Homo sapiens: one gene and its partners. The protein of the gene in region 3 purifies or fractionates together with the protein of the main gene of each other region. This does not show direct contact. Each region holds a gene or a part of one and is shown on either strand. Other genes may lie near its edges.

What was found. Proteins that work in one complex are often made in the same cells at the same time.
Region 1: the proteins of IFT25 (region 3) and KATNIP purify together in Homo sapiens (tandem affinity purification; one large-scale study listed by IntAct). This does not show direct contact.
Region 2: the proteins of IFT25 (region 3) and IFT172 purify together in Homo sapiens (affinity purification with mass spectrometry; 2 studies listed by BioGRID and IntAct, with this or other methods). This does not show direct contact.
Region 4: the proteins of IFT25 (region 3) and ME2 purify together in Homo sapiens (affinity purification with mass spectrometry; one large-scale study listed by BioGRID and IntAct). This does not show direct contact.

The regions. Positions count from the first base shown.
Region 1 is NC_000016.10:27,556,644-27,560,143, reverse strand, and holds part of KATNIP (katanin-interacting protein), read right to left. Parts: intron 1-3,500. UniProt on the Homo sapiens protein: May influence the stability of microtubules (MT), possibly through interaction with the MT-severing katanin complex.
Region 2 is NC_000002.12:27,479,744-27,483,243, forward strand, and holds part of IFT172 (intraflagellar transport protein 172 homolog), read right to left. Parts: intron 1,518-3,500; coding exon 1,303-1,517; intron 407-1,302; coding exon 283-406; intron 1-282. UniProt on the Homo sapiens protein: Required for the maintenance and formation of cilia. Plays an indirect role in hedgehog (Hh) signaling, cilia being required for all activity of the hedgehog pathway.
Region 3 is NC_000001.11:53,932,200-53,935,699, forward strand, and holds part of IFT25 (intraflagellar transport protein 25 homolog), read right to left. Parts: intron 1-3,500. UniProt on the Homo sapiens protein: Component of the IFT complex B required for sonic hedgehog/SHH signaling.
Region 4 is NC_000018.10:50,882,118-50,885,617, reverse strand, and holds part of ME2 (NAD-dependent malic enzyme, mitochondrial isoform 1 precursor), read right to left. Parts: intron 1-3,500.

The sequences.
Region 1 (3,500 bases), on a different chromosome or scaffold from region 3:
CGCCCGGCTAATTTTTGTATTTTTAGTGGAGACGGGGTTTCACCATGTTGGCCAGGCTAGTCTTGAACTCCTGACCTCGTGATCTGCCCGCCTCAGTCTCCCAAAGTGTTGGGATTGCAGGCGTGAGCCACCACACCTGGATTTTTTATTTATTTATTTTTTTTATACAGAGTCTCGCTCTGTCGCCCAGGCTGGTGTGCAGTGGCGCGATCTAGGCTCACTGCAACCTTTGCCTCCTGGATTCAAATGATTCTCCCACCTCAGTCTCCCAGGAAGCTGGGATTATAGGCAGGTGCCACCATGCCTGGCTAATTTCTGTATTTTTACTAGAGACGGGGTTTCACCATGTTGGCCAGGCTGTTCTCAAACTTCTGACCTCAAGTGATCCGCCTGCCTCGGCCTCCCAAAGTGCTGAGATTATAGGTATGAGCCACCATGACCTTACTATTTTTTTTTTTTTTTTGAGACAGGGTCTTGCTCTGTTGCCCAGGCTAGAGTGCAGTGGCATGATCACAGCTCACTGTAGTCTCAACCTCCTGGGCTAAGGTGATCCCACCTCAGCCTCCCGAGTAGCTGAAACCACAGGCATGTGTCAACATGCCCAAATAATTTTTAACAATTTTTTGTAGAGGTGGGGTCTCACCGTGTTGCCCAGGCTGATCTCAAACTCCTGGGCTCAACTGATCCTCCTGCCTCAGCCTCCCAAAGTGCTAGGACTACAGGCATGAGCCACCATGCCTGGCCTGAAATCACTATTTTTGAATATGGAAAAACATATTGATAGACACTGTACAGCGCAGTGTAAAACCTCTGGGTGTGAGAGCAGGTAGGCAAGTGTCTAAAAAGATGAGACTGGAGGGGAGCTAATTCCCCAGAGAAATTCTATACTTCAAGGTGATATGATCCATAGGGCAATTGTTAAAGCTGCAAAGCCCCATGGGACATCAGTAGTCACACTTTCTTACTTTTACATAAAGTGCTCTGCAAACAGTTTCAAGTTCTTCCTTGCAACCAACCACATTGCTCTGCATTAGCCTACTCCCATTTGGAAAGAGAGAAGCAGTCATGGGACCAGATGCTGAGGGAGCTGGGAATGTAGTCAAAACGGGTACCTTTCAAAATGTATATTATTCCATCAGCCCAGTGGCCAGTTCTTCCCCACAGACTCACTCTCCAGGTGTGAGAACCTGGCCACACACTGGCAGTAACAAGGCTGAAATGGGCCTTCCATAACATACTACCAAGTGTAGACCTTATTCGACTGAGTCCTGGCTCTGCTACCTACTAGGTGTGTGGTATAAAACAGACACAATCACAGTATCCCATTGAGCTGTCTCAGGAATCAAATCAGATCTGCCACGGCAACAGTCAGCAAACGTTTCCTGTACAGGCCCAGATAGTAAATATTTTTGGCCCGTGGGCCACATAAGTCTCTTTTACAACTACTCAACTCTGCAAGAAAACAGCCATGGACTATATGTATGTGAAAGGGTGCTGCTGCATTCCAATAAAACTTTATTTACAATAGCAGGCAGTGGGCCACACTGCTTTGGGAAAGGGGAAGACCTCTACAAATATTATCTTCTAAGGACTCCCATGTTGAAATGTAGTCATCTGTTTATGTCTGCTTTCTCACCATACTATGAAGTTTCTAAAGGCAGATAATATATTCCCTTTTTTTCAGATTAAAACAAAAAGAAACTGGGCATGGTGACTCATGCCTGTAATCCCAGCATTTTGGGAGGCCAAGGCAGGCAGATCACTTGAGGTCAGGAGTTCGAAACCAGCCTGGCCAACATATGAAACCCCATCCCTACTAAAAATACAAAAATTAGCCAGGTGTGGTGGCACACACCTGTAATCCCAGCTACTTAGGAGGCTGAGGCAGGAGAATCACTGGAACCCAGGAGGCAGAGGCTGTAGTGAGCTGAGATCGCACCACTGCACTCCAGCCTGGGTGAGAGAACAAGACTCTATCTAAAAACAAAAAAACAAACAAAAAGAATAAGTATAGTCCAGTATGGCATACAAGGAAGTCCACAGGAGTTTTCACAACTGTACAAGTTAATACTAAAGTAGAATTCTAAGTACAAATGCTGACAGGCCTAGGAGTGACAGACACAATGAGAGAAGCCAGTCATTAGACAGGCCCACCTCCCTCTTAAAGGGCAAAGTCTCCACTTAACTCGGGTGGTGGGACAATTGTTGCCATGCAGAATTCTGATTTGGTGTTAACAGACTTTATTGATATTTTCAAGAAAATACCACAATCAGGTATTTATAAGAAATCTGCTCATTTTTCAATGTTGACAACTAATTCAAAAATTTAAAAAACAAAACATTATGAGCCAAATAAACATGCATGTGGGCTGTTTCAGCCCACTTGTGCAAGCTCTGATATAAAGAATTCATTTCCAGCCAGGCATAGTGGCTCATGCCTGTAATCTTAGCAACTTGGGAGGCCAAGGTGGGAGGATCACTTGAGCTCAGGAGATGGAGACCAGCCTGGACAACATAGCAAGACCCCCATCTCCACAAAAAATAAAAAATTAGCTGGGCATGGTGGCACACACCTGTAGTCCCAGCTACTTGGACAGCTGACATGGGACGATCGCTTGAGCCAGGAGATGGACGCACCAGTGAGTTATCTCACCATTGCACTCCAGCCTGGGCAACAGAGCAAGACTCTGTCTCAAAAAAAAAAAAAAAAAAATCCACACCTGTAACCGTAGCACTTTAGGAGGCCAAGGGGTAGGGTTGGATCACCTAAGGTCAGGAGTTCGAGACCAGCCTGGGCAACATGGTGAAACCCCGTCTGTACTAAAAATGCAAAAATTAGTTGGGCGTGGTGGCATGTGCCTGTAATCCCAGCTACCCAGGAGGCTGAGGCAGCAGAATCACTGGAACTCGGGAGGCGGAGGATGCAGTAAGCCAAGATCGCGCCACTGTACTCCAGCCTGGGCTACAAAGTGAGACTCCACCTCAAAAAAAAAAAAAAAAATCAACTTCACAGAAAAATGTCAAGAATAGTACAATGAATTCCCATATCGCCTTCACCTGGATTCAATCTTACTCATTTTGGCATCTCTGAATTCCAATGCACGGAAGGCACTGAAATGTTGAATCATGGAATGAATCTCATAAGGAAAAATAAGCAAAACATTATGGGCCGACTTCCTATAAGTTAAAGTGACAGGAGGAACGAACTCTGAAAAAATCTGAGAGAAAAGAAACTAATCAGATAGAAGGATTGGAACAAGAAGAAAACAGAACAGACACAAAGAGTCTATGGGATGTATGTTTATTTCACCTGCTGAATGCTTGCTTTGTTTTATTGCATTTGATTGTTATTTTATTATTTTTTTTGCTGGGTTTAAGTAGTAAGAGAAACAGACAAATCACCAAGAAGCCAGGTAAATACCACACAAGGACAGGAGAGACCAGCTAAACCGATGGTGTACTCTCAGCAAAACCTTCCTAATTCAACCATCACCTGTTTG
Region 2 (3,500 bases), on a different chromosome or scaffold from region 3:
ACCAAAAGGAAAGAGGCTACAATCATTGGACTCAAGGGCACAACATATTAATGGGATAAAAGGGAAAAACTAGCCCTGCCTACACACAATTTTTTGTCCCTTTTGTGACCTAGGGTAAAGTATGAATTTCTCTTTCCTGCCTTTAATGCCAGAATTTTAGGTCAGGGTCAAAAGGAAAGAGGAGATTCTATAGTGTCAGGGAACAGTGCTTTAGGATAAGGCAGGATTTTTTTCTAGTTTGGTGAAAGTCACCAATCCAGAAAGGGATTACTAGTAACACACCACACAGAGCCGTGAGCCATCCCGCTTCCAGGCCAAGGCAGTGATGGTGTATAAATTGGTAATCTCCTTGGGCTTTGCCTCTTCCCAGATGCTTCTTCGAGGGATCCAGTTGAACACCCGAAGCCTGAAATAAAGTATGTGGCTTTTAGAAGAGATTGAGGCTGAGCTAAAGAGTGCAAATGGGCTGATAACCAAAGGAAATTAGTCTTGCTATATCAGAAAAGAAAGGAAATAAAAAGAACAGACAAGCTAGGCAGTCTAGCAGAAGAGGATATAAAGGTGCACAGGAAATAAGCTGGGAAAATCAAGGCAAAACTAAAACAGAATAAGAGTGAGGGGAGCAGAGAAAACAAAAAGACCAGGGCAGGTGAGAAAAATAAGCTACTAGGAGCAAAAAAATATGGAACAAGGAGATAAATGGTAGGAGTCAGTGAAGAAAGAAGAGAATACAAGGAGACATAAGATTGAAGGGGATAGAAAGACAGGACTGATAAAGCTGGGGTTAAACACATGCCAGAGAAATGATGAGACCTGGAACATGGCTGTTTATCTGCTGTTCCATCATTCATTCATTCATTCGCCAAACATCTGAGCATATCTTAAATATATATAGCATATAGATGCTAATCTAGGCACTGAAAAGATGAATAATAAGCCCCCTTCTCAAGGACTCTGATTTAGCCATCTATCTGGCTAAACAACAGTAGTTTGCAAACAACAAACTGTAATATAATGTGAGAAACTCTAAGCGGTCTCAAAGGGGGCAATGGAAACAGAAAATAGAGATGAATTCTGCTGTGGAAGTGCAGGGAGCGGCACAGAGACAAAACAAGAGCCCAGGACATTTTGGAACTGCCAGCACACCAATGGATAGCGGGAGCAGGAAGAGGAAAGCGCATGAATTACATACATACATTTGATTCTGCTCCAGTCTCGCACTCTGGCTCAGAATAATTTGGCTAAAGCAGAGAGTGTTCGCAGGGAAAGTAGGCAGTAGATAAAACTGGAAAGGGGACTTACCTGTCATAACTTCCTAGCACAACAGACTGGCCCCCAGGACTTGATACAGCTGTGGTGAACTCCCGCTCCTGAGGGTCACGGCTATAATCAAAAGTTTGTAGCATGTGACCTTCTTTTCCATAGGCTACAATTTTCCGATCACAGCCTGCAGCCACGATGCTATTGGTTGCCCATGCCAAGGCATAGGGTGGACACGGGTGGTTAACCAACTTCCCCTAAGACAGAAGTAGAGGGTTTCAATCACTCTTCGAAGACTCCACCCGAGAAATTCCTCACTCTCAACACCTGGTACATTCACTCTGACCATCATACCCTGCAGAAATCTCTTCCAACATTTCCCTATCCCAACACATCCTAATCCTGAACTCTTCACAAATTGTCACACACACACACACACACACACACACATACACACACACACACACCCCTATACACATAGGGGTTGACCTTGTGCTCTAGAAAAACCTCAAAATGCTTGTATATTGGAATTTTCTTTTTTCTTTTTTTTTTTTTTGAGACAGAGTCTCACTCTGCCGCCCAGGCTGGAGTGCAGTGGCACAATCTCATCGCTGCAACCTCCGCCTCCCCAGGTTCAAGCGATTCTCCTGTCTCAGCCTCCTGAGTAGCTGGGATTACAGGTGTGTGCCACCATACCAGGCTAATTTTTCTGTTTTTAGTAGAGATGGGGTTTCACCATGTTGGTCAGGCTGGTCTCGAACTCCTGACCTTGTGATCAGCCCGTCTCAGCCTCCCAAAGTGCTGGGATCACAGGCGTGAGCCACCACGCCCAGCATGTATTGGAAATTTTTAATATGCACCTGGTAAAGCTCCTCAGAAAAGGAGATGTGCTACACATTAACCAACACCGTCTGGGCCCACAAAGAGCATAGGGCTTCTTTTTTTAAGGAGGGTCAAATTTCAGTATTATACGAATAATTCTTCTTTTTTTTTTTTTTTAGATGGAGTCTCACTCTGTCGCCGGGGCTGCAGTGCAGTGGCGCGTTCTCACCTCACTGCAACCTCCCCTCCCGGGTTCAAGCAATTCTCCTGCCTCAGCCTTCCGAGTAGCTGGGATTCCGGGCACGTTCCACCATGCCCGGCTAATTTTTATATTTTTAGTAGAGACGGGGTTTCACCATGTTGGCCAGGCTGGTCCTGAACTCCTGACCTCAGGTCATCCACCCGCCTTGACCTCCCAAAGTGCTGGGATTACAGGAGTGAGACACTGTGCCCGGCCTATACAAGTAATTCTTTTTTTTTTTGAGATGGCATTTCACTCTTGTTGCCCAGTCTGGAGTTCAATGGCATGCGATCTTGGCTCACTGCAACCTCTGCCTCCCAGGTTCAAGCGATTCTCCTGCCTCAGCCTCCCAGAAAGCTGGGATTACAGGCATGTGCCACCACGCCCAGCTAATTTTTTTGTATTTAGTAGAGACGGGTTTCACGTCAGGCTGGTTTCCAACTCCTGACCTCAGGTGATCCACCCGCCTCGGCCTCCCAAAGTGCTGGGATTACAGGCACGGCTCACAAGTAATTCTTAATGTAAATGATTCAAACAACACACAATTATATAGAGTAAAACATGAAAGTTTCCTTTTTATCCCCCATCTTTTTCCTTTCCCCTTTCCAGAGTAAACTATTAACTCTTTTTTCTATGAATCTACATACATAAATATATATATTTTACATAAATGGGAATAATTTTCACTTTTCATTACTCTAAGAGTTTTTATTTCCCTTTGTCTCAAGGTCCCTTTCACCTAATTCATCCCTTCTTATAAGCAGTAAGCTCCAGGCTCCTAAACACAAATCCTCTCAGTGGCCACATCCAACTTTTTCTCTGTCCCTGAGTTCTCCTCTAGCTTCCTCTCTTAGTATCTCAATCCAAATGCCTTAGAAGTCCAACCTCCTCTAGGAGGGCTCCTGGAATTTCCTTATCCCCTATTCCACAGCATCTTTTTTTTTTTTTTTTTTTGAGACACGGTCTTGTTCTGTCACCCAGGCTGTAGTGCAGTGGTGCTATTTCAGCTCACTTGCAGGCTCAACCTCCTGGGCTCAAGTGATCTTTCCACTTCGGCTTCCTGAGTAGCTGGGACTACAGGCCCATGCCACCATGCCCGACTAATTTTTGTATTTATTTTTTGTTTTTTTGGTAGAGACAGGGTTTCACTGTGTTGCCCATGCTGGTCTCAAACTCC
Region 3 (3,500 bases):
AATCAGCCAGGTGTGGTGGCACATGCCGGTAGTCTCAGCTACTTGGGAGGCTGAGGCCCAGGAGGCAGAAGTTGCCATGAGCTGAGATTGCACCACTGCACTCCAGCCTGGATGACAGAGGGAAACTCCATCTCAAAAAAAAAAAAAAGAAAGATTTTCTAAGATCCCTTCTGATTTCTTTTTTGACCCATGGGTTATTTAGAAGTGCAGTGTTTAATTTCTAAGTTTTGGGGGGTTTTCTGAATATCTTTTTGTTGTTTATTTCTAATTTAATTACACAGTGGTCAGAGAACATACTATCTAAGATTTTAATCTTGAAATATATTGAGACTTATTTTATGTTTCAGCACATTTCAGTGAATGTTCAATATGCTGGGTTTTAAGAGACAGAGTCTCGCTCTGTCACCCAGACTGCAGTGCAGTGGCACAATCTTGGCTCACTGCAGCATTGACGTCCTGGGCTCAAGCCATCCTCATGCCTCAGCTCCAAAAGGAGCTGGGACTACAGGTACACGCCACCATGACTGGCTAATTTTTGTGTTTTTTCGTAGAGATGGGGTTTTGTCATGTTGTCCAGGCTGGTCTCACACTCCTGAGCTCGGGCAATCCGCCTGCCATGGCCTCCCAAAGTGCTGGGATTACAGGCGTGAGCCACCATACACAACCCATCAATACATTCTTGTTCCATGTTGTTGATTATAGTGTTCTATAACCGTCAACAAAGTCAAGGTTATGACATTATTCAGATCATCTATGTCTTTATTGATTTTCTGCCAAATTGTTCTATCATTACTGAGAAAAGGGTATTAAAATCTCTAACTATAACTGTGAATTTGTCTATTTCTCCCTTTCATCTGTCAGATTTTGCTTTATGTAGTTTAAAGAACTATTATTAGGTCCATATACACTTAGGATTATCCTCTCTTCCTTTTTCTCTTTTTTTTTTTTTTTTTTGAGGCGGAGTCTCACTCTGTCGCCCAGGCTGGAGCGCAGTGCACAATCTTGGCTCACTGCAAGCTCCGCCTCCCGGGTTCATGCCATTCTCCTGCCTCAGCCTCCCGAGTAACTGGGACTACAGGCATGCGCCACCACGCCTGGCTAATTTTTTTTATTTTTAGTAGATACGGGGTTTCACCATGTTAGCCAGGATGGTCTCGATCTCCTGACCTCGTGATCCGCCCGCCTCGGCCTCCCAAAGTGCTGGGATTGCAGGCGTGAGCCACCGCACCCAGCTATCCTCTCTTCCTAATGAACGGACTCTCTAACACTATAACGTGTCCCCTTTGTCTCTGGTAATACTCCTTGTCTTATATTTTTGTCTGACATGAATATAACTACAGCGACTTTCTTATGTAAACTGTTTGTAGGATGCATCTTCTTTCATCCTTTTATTTTCAACTATTCATATCTTTATATTTAAAGTGCATATCTTTTAGACAATATATATTTGGGTCTTGGATTTTTATCCAGTCTGACAATCTGATATTTAACTGGAGTGTTTAGCCTCACTGATATTTAGTGTAACTACTGATATGGTTGGGTATAAGTCTACCATCCTGCTATTCATTTTTGTCTCTCCCTCCTATTCTTGTCCTGTTTCTTCTCTCCTGTTTCTGAGTGAATAATTTTTTTAAAATTCCATTTAATTCCTCTATTTTTTTTTAGCTATACCTCCTTTATTAGAAATTTTTGAAATAGCTGCTCTCTAGGTTACAACATAAAAACCTCATGATAGTCAATTTACACTGAACATCACTTTTGTGCCATTGTTGTCATATATTTTACATATATAATATATCCCATAATACAGTTTTTTTCATTAAGTGGTCAGTTATCTTTCAAAAAAATTAAAAGAGGAAAAAAAGGCAGTCTTTTATATTTACCCAAATATTTATCATTTCCAGTACACTTAATTTCTTCTTATAGGTTTGATTTTCCATCTAATATTATACCTCTTCAACCTGCAGGATTTCCTTTAGCATTCCTTATGATGCAGGTCTACTTGTGATGAAAAATGCCTTTATCCTATCTTCATTTTTGGAAGATAGTTTAGCTAGACACAGAATTCTGGGTTGACAGGGTTTTTAAATATTTGCTTGTTTCTCCCTTCCCCAGTATTTAAAAGATATTGCTCCATTGTTGTCTGGCTTCCACTGTTTGTGATGTAAAGTCAGCTGTCATTAGCACTATTGTTCCTCTGTATATAATAGTTTTTATTTCCTTCTAGCTATTTTAAATATTTTTTTCCTTTTTCAGCAGTTTGACTAAGATACAATGTCTGTATTTATCTAGCTTGGGGCTTGCTGAGTTTTTTGGGTCTATAAGTTGGTATTTTAAAATAAAATTGGGAAAAATTCAGCTCAAAAGTAGAAACAACCCAGATGTCCATCAACTGATGAATGCGTAAATAAAATGTGCTATATCCATACAATGAAATCTTGACAATAAATAAGAATGAAGTACTGATATGTGCTACAACATGGATTAACCCTGAGAACATGTAAGTGAAAGAAACCAGGCCAGGTGTGTTAGCACATGCCTGTAATCCAAGCACTCTGGGAGGCCAAGGCAGGTAGGTTGCTTGAGGTCAGGAGTTCAAGACCAGCACAGCCAACATGGTAAAACCCTGTCTCTACTAAAAATACAGAAATGAGCCAGGTGTAGTGGTGCACACCTGTAGTCATAGCTACTTGGGAGGCTGGGACATGAGAATCACTTGAACTCAGCAGGCAGAGGTTGCAGTGAGCTGAGACTGCACCACTGCATTCCAGCTTGGATGACAGAGCAAGACTCTGTCTCAAAAAAACAAAAAACGAAAGAAAGAAACCAGTCACGGCTGGGGGTTGTGGCTTACGCCTGTAATCCCAGCACTTTGGGAGGCTGATGCAGGTGGATCATGAGGTCAAGAGATCAAGACCATCCTGGCCAACATGGTGAAACTCCGTCTATACTAAAAATACAAAAATTAGACGGATGTGGTGGGGCCTGCCTTAATCCCAGCTACTCGGGAGGCTGAGGCAGGAGAATCGCTTGAACCCAGGAGGCAGAGACTGCAGTGAGACAAGATTGCGCCACTGCACTCCGACACTGTTTCAAAAGAAACCAGTCACAAAAGACCACATGTGTATGGTTCTATTTATATGAAATGTCTCAATAGATAAAATCTACAGAAACAAAGTAGATTAATGCTTGCCTAGGGCTAGTATGGATGGGAAAATACAGGGTGACTGATAACAAGTGTGGGGTTTCTTGTGTGGGGTTTCTTTTTGGGATGATGAAAACGTTCTAAAATTGATTGTGGAGATGGCTATGTAACTCTGTGAATAGGCTGGAAGCCACTGAATTGTATATTCTAAATGGGCGAATTGTATGGTATGTGAATAATATGTCAATAAAGTTGTTACCCACCCCCAAAAAAAGGCCAGAACTACTTTTTTTTTTTTTTTAAGAGACAGGGTCTTGCTCTCTCACTCAGGCTGGAGTACAGTGGCACAAACTTC
Region 4 (3,500 bases), on a different chromosome or scaffold from region 3:
ACAAAATTGGGATGGTTGATACTCTGCTAAGTGATGAAAAAAAACCATTTAAATTTTATAAATTGTCATTTAAAAAAAGTTTTATATATTTTTTTTTTTAGAGACAGTATCTCACTCTGTCACTCAGGCTGGAATACAGTTGTATAATCACAGCTAACTGCAGTCTTGAACTCCTGGGCTCAAGTGATTCACCTGCTTTAGCCTCCCAAGTAGTTGAGACTACAGGTACAAGCCACTGTGCCCGGCTAATTTTAATATTTTGTACAGCTGGCGTTTGCTATGTTGCCCAGGCTGGTCTTGAACTCTTGGCCTCAAGCAATCGTCCGATCTCAGCCTGTGAGTTGCTGGGATTAGAGGCATGAGCCATCACACCCAGCTAAAAAGAAGTTCTAAAAGAATTCATCATATGTTTATGTGGCTCTTCCAGGAGAGATAGCATTATTTACTACAGTTAAAACTTTGGGCCTGGCGTGGTGGCTCATGCCTGAAATCCCAGCACTTTGGGAGGCTGAGGCAGGCAGATCACCTGAGACCAGGAGTTCGGGATCAGACTGGCCAACATGGCAAAACCCTGTCTCTACTAAAAACACAAAAAATTAGCTGGGTGTGGTGACCGGCGCCTGCAATCCCAGCTACTCGGGAGACTGAGGTGGGAGAATTGCTTGAACCCGAGAGGCGGCGGCTGCAGTGAGCCGAGATTGCACCACTGCACTGCAGCCTGGGCAACAAGAGCGAAACTCCGTTTCAGACACACACACACACACACACACACACAAACACACACAAACTTTGGTGATTAGTACTGCAAGGTAGGCAAATCTAAAATGGTATGGAATACATTTTATTTTGAATCAAAGGCAATCCCCAAAAAATACATTTTGGAATCAGTAGTTAAGATCAGGTTGCTGATATACGAAATCTTCTATTTTCAACTCCTAGTTAAAATCTTGCTCCTATCAAATAATGAATTTGGGCCTGGCGCAGTGGCTCACGCCTGTAATCCCAGCCCTTTGGGAGGCCGAGGCAGGTGGAACATGACGTCAAGATTTCAAAGCTATCCTGATCAACATGGTGAAACCCAGTCTCTACTAAAAGTACAAAAATTAGCCGGGCATGGTGGTGCGTGCCTGTAGTCCCAGCTACTCGGGAGGCTGAAGCAGGAGAATTGCTTGAACTCAGGAGGCAGAGGTTGCAGTGAGCTGAGATCACGCCACTGCACTCTAGCCTTATGACAGATTGAGGCTCTGTCTCAAAATAAACAAATAAATAAAATAATGAATTTGGCTTGTATATAAAGATAACACCACCTCTCAAATCTACCTCATAGAAAACTGTGATGATTAAATGAGAGAATATATGCAAAAGAGTATTATAATTAAAGATAAAACATATATTATTCAAACTATTAGATAATTTTATTAGCAAGTGATAGAGTAAAATAAAATATAAAAGTAATTTTAATAGTGTCTTTAGTAGGCATAATTAAAAAAAAACTTAAGGAAAAAAACAATCTTTGCCGAAATTGGAACTTAGAACACTTACAGACAGAAACAGACAGGTGGGCTTAATATCTGCTGGAGACAAGACAGAACGAGGAAAACACACACCTAACTCCTTATGTTACACAAAGATGACAGAAGGAGAACTATAGGAGTGAGTGAAGTAAAAACAGGAAATAAAAGAAGGTGGGGATTCGAATTTTGAATGACTAAGTAAAATCAAGCTATTTACTGGAGAGTTTCTTTTTTTGTTTTTTAGACAGAGTCTTGCTCTGTCACCCAGGCTGGAGTGTAATGGCACAATCTTGGCTCACTGCAACCTCCACCTCCTAGGTCAAGCAATTCTCCTGCCTCAGCCTCCCGAGTAGCTAGCACTACAGGTGCCCACCACCATGCCCGTTTACTTTTTTGTATTTTTAGTAGAGATGGGGTTTCACCATATTGGCCAGGCTGGTCTCAAACTCCTGATCTCAGGTGATCCGCCCGCCTCGGCCTCCCAAAGTGCTGGGATTACAGGTGTGAGCCACCACACCCAGCAGGAGAGTTTCTTGAATACTGGAATATGCCCGTGGTTTCTTGCCCTGGTATGGTCACTGCCTTGCCCCTTCCATGAGTAAGCACAGACAAAAGAACTACCTCAAACAGGGAAGCAGTGGAACTCACCCTCTGGGTGGTATTTACAAACTGGACTGGGACTAAAGCTGTTAAGACATTGGCTGCTGGAGACTATTCTCCCTGGCCCCCTACCTGGAGGGAGAAGGAAATAGTCAACACCTGAGAAAGACTGTTCACAGGAGACCAAAACCCTAGACACTGTTCACTAGAAAGAGCTCATGACAGGGCAACAAGCACAGGCTTTGCTGTCAGACAGACTGGAGAGTGAATCTGGACTGGACTCAGCTAATTACCAGTTCAGAATCAGTTGTGTCACCCAGGCATTCCTGAATGATCTCTGAATTGGTGTTAGTTTAGGACATGTTTTTGACTGGTCTATGACCAAAGGAGGAAAAACTAACACAATGTAATATAGTTTTTCATAATATTAAATTTATTCTGTTTTTATGTTGTAACTATGACCTTCCTACCTTTGTGGTGGTAAAAATGTCCCTTTTTTAAGGAAAGGATCAGGACAGTAGATTGCAGTAGTTTTTTTGTTTGTTTTTTTGAGATAGAGTCTCAAAAATCACTGTCGCCCAGGCTGGAGTACAGTGGTGTGATCTCAGCTCACTGCAACCTCTGACTTCCAGGTTCAAGCGATTCTCCTGCCTCAGCCTACTGAGTAGCTGGGATTATAGGTGTGTGCTACCATGCCCAGCAAATTTTTGTATTTTTAGTAGAGACGGGGTTTCACCATGTTGGGCAGGCTGGTCTCGAACTCCTGACCTCAAGTGATCCATCCACCTCTGGCTCCCAAAGTGCTGGGATTACAGACATGAACCAATGTGCCTGACCAGATTGCAGTAGTGTTTAAGAAGATTCTCAACCTTGACAGAAATAAAAGTTGGAGATCTTACGTCTGGTCCCAATTGTCCCCCACACATAACAGTTTTTTACTTGTTGGCAAAGTCCAAAAGTCTGGAAGCCATTGACTTAGATGTTTCATTTTTCTCATCAATAAAGTGGGGGAGGGGAAACTTGCAGAATTCTGTGTAGTAATGTTGATATATACATATTATTAATAGTGTCAAGCCTTTAGAGCTTTACAATAGCATCACTATAAAGAGCTTGACTACTTGATTTCAAAGTTTGCTTTAAAAAACCCATACGAAATAGTCTAGCAGAGTGGTCAAAGGGCAAGTTCTGGAGTCAAACTGCCTGGATTTAAATCCCGTGGCGAACACCTGTAATCCCCAGCACTTTGGGAGGCCAAGGTGGGTGGGTTGCTTGAGCTCAAGAGTTCCAGGTCAGCCCGGGCAACATGACAAAACCCCATCTCTACAAAAAATTTAAAAACTAGCTGGGGGTAGTGGCACACACCTGCAGTCCTGGCTACTTCAGAGG